Linked DNA regions of Homo sapiens. The protein of the gene in region 1 interacts with the protein of each later gene in a pairwise test. Each region holds a gene or a part of one and is shown on either strand. Other genes may lie near its edges. The genes, in order: POMP and ECT2.

The links.
Region 2: the proteins of POMP (region 1) and ECT2 interact in a two-hybrid assay, tested with the Homo sapiens proteins (one large-scale study listed by BioGRID).

Annotation. Positions count from the first base shown.
Region 1 is NC_000013.11:28,665,576-28,669,402, reverse strand, and holds part of POMP (proteasome maturation protein), read right to left. Parts: intron 931-3,827; coding exon 829-930; intron 1-828. UniProt on the Homo sapiens protein: Molecular chaperone essential for the assembly of standard proteasomes and immunoproteasomes. Degraded after completion of proteasome maturation. Mediates the association of 20S preproteasome with the endoplasmic reticulum.
Region 2 is NC_000003.12:172,756,909-172,760,735, reverse strand, and holds part of ECT2 (protein ECT2), read right to left. Parts: intron 3,754-3,827; coding exon 3,571-3,753; intron 1,757-3,570; coding exon 1,667-1,756; intron 581-1,666; coding exon 473-580; intron 1-472. UniProt on the Homo sapiens protein: Guanine nucleotide exchange factor (GEF) that catalyzes the exchange of GDP for GTP. Promotes guanine nucleotide exchange on the Rho family members of small GTPases, like RHOA, RHOC, RAC1 and CDC42.

The DNA.
Region 1 (3,827 bases):
TCCTGTATCAAAAAAATAAATACAAAGTAAAAACATAAAAGCCAAGGGAAAAAGGAAGAAGCCATTATTAGTGTCAAATACTACAGGGAGATGAAGTAAAGTGAAGGTAAAAATGTCCACATTGTTCAGGAGCAGTTTCATTGGTGTCATGGGAGACAGAAACAGTGGGTTAAATAAATAGCAGGGAAAGGAGTATAGAAAGCAAATGTAGACAACTTTTCAAGAAGCAAAAGCACACTCAATGAGAGACAAGTTACTATAAAGGAATTTGAAATTGATACAATTTTTTTTTGTTTTAAAAGACAACAGCGGTTCAAATGCTACTGCTGAGACAGAGCAAGCAGAGAGGGGTTAAAGATATCAGCTTGAGAAGGCATCATTGATAAAGGGATTTTCCTGAAGTAATGTAACAGGATAGAATCCAAAGCACAGGTAGGAGGGTGGTTCTTACATAATTGGAAGGACATTTTCCAAGTACTTATTCCTTAGAAACAGGTATATTCAACTATATACAAATTGTATACTTGACACCTCCACTTGGATATTCTTAGAGGGATCTCAAATTCAATGTAATACATAAAAAAAAAACCCAGAAAAACATGAAAGCAGATGCAGGTAAGTTTTCAGACACTGAGCCTGTAATTTGAAGTTTTCCATTTAATGACTTCTTTTTTCCCTCTATGAAGTAGAAATCAAGGTCATACCCTAAAAAGGGGGAGGGAAGTAGAATAGGTTGTAAGGTAGATAAGGTATAAATAGCTGTTATGAAAACAGAAGATTCCTCATGAATGATATCGACACATATGCAACAGAGATCCATCAACTCACCTGCTGCACTGCCTTGAATTCCATCTGTAATTTTAGCGGAGCAAATAGACCCTGAATGTTTCTCAGTGTGGAAAAATTCATTTTATCTTGGTTGAGCTGGAACTACAAAAGACAATGTAATTTTAAACATTACACTCAATACTCTGCTTTCAAAACAGTTAGCAGTGGCATATATATAACACAATAGTTAGATGAAGAATTTTAATATCCATACCTGTAATAAAAACTAAGTATTTTTACTAATTTTTTCTGACAAATTTTAGACCACATATGTCTATATTTCATTTAGCATGCAGGTGTACTTTTACCAGAGTAAAATTACTACCAAAATTCCAAATTTATAAAAGTAAAGGAATGTGTCTCCTATTCAAAAGTAGATTTACAAGACAATCATATTTTAGCGCTTTTGATTAAAAGTACTGCAAAACTAGCAAAGGTGTAATTTGAGATCCAGAAAATGTCACATCCACTGACAAAAATAGTTAATTTCTAAGTATGAAGGCATATATTTAAAAGGATTCAGCAAAAGAAATAATCTGACCACTAAATCATCCTGTTAATTAAACTATGTTTAAACTCCACTTATTTTTGGTACTTGCCTCAGGGGAAAAACAAACATCTCTCAAAAGTTTATTCAATTTGTATTGGGTACTAATCAGCAATTTTTCCTGGATCATACTTTCACTAAGTACTGATATTACATTTAGGGAACTTTGGCCATAACTTAATGTATTTCAGGCAAAATGAATCGACTTGACTCATGGATTCTAAAACAGTTTCCAAAAATGGCTCCTAAGGATAGTGAATGTAATATGCAAACAGACTGTTACAAAGATTTGTCTGAGCTAAGGTGATTATAATGAGGTAAAGTCATTTCTTGTCATTTTTTATTACACGCTACTCTCTTGATAACATTGTCTTCTAATAGTAATCAAAAAGGTCATTTTGAACAAAAATCTATTGAGAGATTAGCACCTACTTGGGATATGACTATGAAGTTTGAAAGTAAGGTGACTAACCAAATGCTTTTTAATTACTTTAGCTTTACACAGCAAATTTTGACAGATGGTCCTTAGGGAAAACCTGCAGTATTTTATTATGGGTATATGATCTGAAGTTCTAAGTGAAGGGTTTGCTTTAAATATTGGCTTATCCTCATGATAATACAATTTTATTCTAAGAGACGGGTCTTGCTATGTGGCTGGAGTGCAGTGGCTATTCACAGGCACGATTATAGAGCACTACAGCCTCGAATTACCAGGCTCAAGCAATCCCCCGCCTCAGCCTCCCACGCCGCTGGGACTACAGGCACACCCCACCACACCCAGCAGTAAATGTAATTTTATGTATAATAACTCAATTTATGTAAATTTTGATGAATACAGCCATCTTGTAATGTGATATTAATACTGTAATTATCAATCAACATGTAAGTTAGCAACCGTGTGCAAAATTAGGCTCTGTGGCAACACACAACAAAACTGAACAGCCTACCTTGGAGATTATAATCCAGTTTGGAAGACATTATGTATGTATCTCAACCCTCCGCACTACTGATTTCTTGGGCCAGATAATTCTTCACTGTGGCAGGCTGTCCTGTGTACTGTAGGATGTTTGGCAGCATCCCTGGCCTCTACCCCATAGATGCCAATATTACATCCCCCCATCCCCCACCGCACCACTTGTGACAACCTAAAATGTCCTCAGACTTTGCCAACTGTTCCCTTGTAGGGGGCAGGAGGATGATCCTCCCCTAGTTGAGAACCACTGGTACAAATGATGATGGCCATCTTCCATCACTATCACCACTGAAGCTCCCAATCATGCAGAGCTACTAGAGGCCAGCAATATGCCAAGGATGGGCTATTACTAACTCCAGATGAGAAGACTAAGGCTTAAAGAAAATTAAGCAATATGCCCCAAGTTTACTTAGCAAAGTGGGGTGCCCACATAGTTCAACTACACAATCCATGCTGAAGGATTTATAATAGACAGTAAGAGTCACATAAAGAGTGAGACTGCCATTAGCTGGCTAAATGATTAAAGAAGAAGAGATGCAGTAGATGTATGTAAGTCTCAAAAAGATCTCTGAAGTTTTTAGATTCTTCACAGTTCCACCTAGTCTCACTCAGATTTGTCAGTTTCTCTTAATATGTATTGCTTAGAACTAAACCAATATTCCAAATCTAATAGCCAGACTAATACACAGGAAAATAATATAATCTCCCTTGATTTGAGCCCCATCTTATTAACAAAGCCCAAGACTGCATTAACCTTTCTTTTTAGTAACTAACGTAATCTGCTGGCTTATAGTGAGTATACAGTCAATTAAAATAGTCAAGTTTTACAGAGCAAGTCACTTTACCCTGCCCAAAGGTGTAGAATTCATTTTTTGAATCCAAACGCAGAACTTCACACTCACCTCTATAAATGTTTTCCTTAAATTTTGGTCTAGACTTTGGTCTATTTTATCACCATGATATAGTTCAATTATTCAACAGAATGAACTATCCTTCTCAACCTTTTTTCCAAAAACCTAATATACATTCTTTCTTTGGTTGCCCACAAGTCCTTGAAAAATACTTATCCTTCCTATGTGTCCACCTGACTACCTAAGATGTAGACAGAGGCCAAAAAGCCCTATCAAAATATTCCCTCCAAATTGACTATTCCCTAATCACCGTTCTCTGGGTACAGTTACCAACCTCATATACTTTACCCTACACTACTTTCACTCGGTTAATAATCCACCATGTAATCCTCAATCTTATCCCTTGTCAGATAATTTGATCCCTTGACTGACCCATTTGGCAACTGAGTAAAAGAGTGAACTAAAATTAATTTGCTGAGTTCATTCAGATGCTGATGATCACTGCTTACCCTATTAAATGCTCACAGCTCACTCAATAGTCCACTTAAGAAACAGTTTCAGGGATCAATGTTACCACAGACAATCTTATTTTTTAGTTAGATCCTTTATACAAAAGTGGAATATGTAT
Region 2 (3,827 bases), on another chromosome or scaffold:
AAAAAAAAAAAAAAAAAAAAAAAGGCACTTAGACAAGAGTAAATTCCCTACTTTCACAATTCCTACAATGTTATTCATCTACCAACCCCCACGATCCTAGTCATCTTTCAACACCTCACTCAAGTTCCATTGCCTACTTAAAACTTAACCACTCGGCCAGGCCTGGTGGCTCACGTATGTAATCTCAACACTTTGGGAGGCCAAGGCAGGAGGATCACTTAAGCCCAGGAGTTCGAAAGCAGCCTGGGTAACAGAGCAACACCCCATCTCTATTTAAAAAAAAAGAAAAGAAAAGAAAAGAAAGAAAATTTAACCACTCTTATGATTTAAAATTTTTTACTAAATATATTCATAGCAAAAATTGAGTTTCTCTTCTTTAATTGTGAAAGAAATAGATAAAAGACTGCTATTATTAAACCCATGCCAAAATAATGCTGTATTGAAATACACAAAAATACCCAAGTTTACATACCCTGAATTTTTCTCCTTGTGTACAATTTGCCACCAAATGTGTAACTTTTGAATTAAAGTCTTTTCGAATAACTCCACCCATGTGATGGACCAATGTCACCAACCTGACCTCAAAAGAAAAATTAAGCAACACTGACTTTATGGTTAATTTGAACAAAATTTTAAACTATGTTTACCCCACATTTAGCATTTGCTAAATACTTTCTATTTATAAAATACATACGGGATTTTTATAAAGCTATTAAATTTTATGTCAAAGTAAGTATAAAAAAGATTAGTTTGCCTATTAACACAGGCAAAATTATAGAGGTGGGATTAGTAAAGATTTCACACAAATGTAAGTTAAACAACCGCCTTTCCTATGGCCTAAATATATTGCTTTTTAATACCATACTGTGTAAATATATTGGTTTTTTTAAAAAAATACCAAGTTTTATCACATCAAGACTGTTCCCACAAAATCAGAGTAATACCCATCAGTTCCAACAACAAAGTATTGTGAACCAAAGAAAGAACTTTCTGGCCGGGCGCGGTGGCTCACGCATGTAATCCCAGCACTTTGGGAGGCCGAGGCAAGCGGATCACGAGGTCAGGAGATCAAGACCATCCTGGCTAACACGGTGAAACCCCATCTCTACTAAAAATACAAAAAAAAATTAGCCAGGCGTGGTGGCGGGCGCCTGTAGTCCCAGCTCCTCGGGAGGCTGAGGCAAGAGAATGGTGTGAACCTGGGAAGCGGAGTTTGCAGTGAGCCGAGATTGCGCCACTGCACTCCAGCCTGGGTGACAGAGCAAGACTTGTCTCAAAAAAAATAAAATAAAAATAAAAAAGGAACTTTCTATGAATTCTATAGGGCAACAGAATACTTTCAGGCTGAACTTGCATAATAAGAAATTGCAATGTATAAACAAAAACTTTAAATAACCAACGTAGCCAATATGGTAACAAGACAGTCAAACAGAATTGCTATGAAATCTTTCTATTAATTCACATCAGCCAGCCTAGACAAAACACTGGTCTCTTTATAAGGCTCTTCAGGATTTGTTTCTTCAGAAAATTTAAAATCTGGTATAGCCATAATAAGTTATCCTTCAATATTTTAAAAATAAAACCATAATACTAAAAAGAAAAAAAAGCCAATTTTAATTTATTTTGCTGTAAAAAATACGCTTTGAATTTGTTTCGTAATACTTACTAGTTCTTCTTTTTTCCTAAATCCAGTAAAGCATAGTACTAGATTCATCATACTTGTACAATACAACGGGCGACATGAAAATGGCAAAGGCTGAAGGATACAACAATTTTAAATGTGAGCTTTCTCTTTAGTAGAAAATACAACACAACTTTCTCAAGCTAAATATATTTCATTTCCCCTCTTGCCATTCAACTTTCCCAATCCAAAGATTTACTGGCATTTTTTCAATATGCAACAAAAAAACAGCAAAACGACAGATTGCAAGTTTCCCAATAAAAATATTTCCCGATTCCTTAATCATATGCAATATACATAATCTAAACACACTTTACTCTCAGCAAATTAAACAAATATTAAATGCACTCTGACAGACATGAAGTACTGACTATAAGCAAAGTTTTCAGACTCCATACACTACTATAGATGATTCTAATTAATGTCATTAAAACAGGTCAGAGGCATTTTATAATAAACACTGAGTAAATATAATACACACACTTAAACCAAATATAATTCTAATCTTTAAGCTAATAAATGGTGATATTCAGTAAATAATTTACCCAACGGTTGTGTGTGTGTGTGTCTGTGTGTGTGTGTGTGTATAAAAGAGAACGGTTTAAAAATAATAAAAGAATAAATTTGATTTTCATCATTATATAAGATTATTTTTCAAAATTTGGCCTTTTAAAGTTTATTTGGGTTTTGAAACCAACCACTCCAAATCAAAATGTAAGAGAATTAAAGGTTAACATGTGCTTATTATTACTAACATGTGTAACAATAGAAGTACAAAGACCTAAGCAATTTTAAGTAAACAAGGCAAGCTTAAGAATGCCAAGACAGCAACAAAACCAAATAGGGACTAACTCTCATACGACTCATATTGAAATGCTGTTTAAAAACAAAAAGAAGCGGGGCACGGTGGCTCATGCCTGTAATCTCAACACTTTGGGAGGCAGAGGCAGGAAGATAACGTGAGGTCAAGAGTTCGAGACCAGCCTGGCCAACATGGTGAAATCCTGTCTCTACTAAAAATAGAAAAAACTTAGCCAGGCGTGGTGGCATGCACCTGCAGTCCCAGCTACTTGAGAGGCTGAGGCAGTAGAATCGCTTGAACCCGGGAAAGCAGAGGTTGCAGTGAGCAGAGATCGTGTATTTATTTATTAAATAAATAAATAAATACAAAAAGCTAAAATAATTTTTGAATTTTAAGTTATACAGTAACTGATAAAAATGGAACCGTGGTATCTGTTCTGTGTTGAGAAAAATAAAAGTTTATGTATATGTATGAATTTCTGGAACCCAAGTTTAAGCAAGTAATCTTCTCTAAGACATTGTGGTATTGATAGTGTATACGCCAGGCGCAGTGGCTCACGCCTGTAATCCCAGAACTTTGAGAGTCCGAAGCGGGTGGATCACGAGGTCAGGAGATCAAGACCATCCTGGCTAACATGGTGAAACGCCATCTCTACTAAAAATACAACAAAGTAGCTGAGCATGGTGGCGGGCACCTGTAGTCCCAGCTACTGGGGAGGCTGAGGCAGGAGAATGGCGTGAACCCAGGAGGCGGAGCTTGCAGTGAGCTGAGATCGTGCCACTGCACTCCAGCCTGGGCACAGAGCAAGACTCCGTCTCAAAAAAAAAAAAAAAAAAAGGACTATGTATTTGTCTGTGTATATGCATATGTACAGTTATCATTATTTAACTTTCAAAGGCCTTAGCTTTTCACCACTAAGTTTAAAATGGAGGAATTAAAGGACCACATTAGAATAGCCACTATTATTCCTATTCTAAATATTTTGCTCTCAGCAATCAATGAGATTTTTCCAAATAAATTTTTTGCTAATTAAAATTCATTAATAAAAATTTTAACTTGAAAAGTCATAATAAATGTATATGCTTACCTCTCCTTTTTGTGAACAATTTAATACAACTGGTGGTCCAATAACTCTACAATCAGCCTTGTAGAGGTCATTAAAGACAGAATCCTGAAAGTCCGTGACTACAAATACATTTTCAAATTCCGGAGAATCCAAACCTTCAAATTCTTCCACTGACTCCATCTTTACAAAGCCCACTTTAATGTCCTTTTCATCATATAGTTAGCAGAAATAAAAATTATTTATATATCAAATAATCCATCTGTCTCTCTAAATAAGGC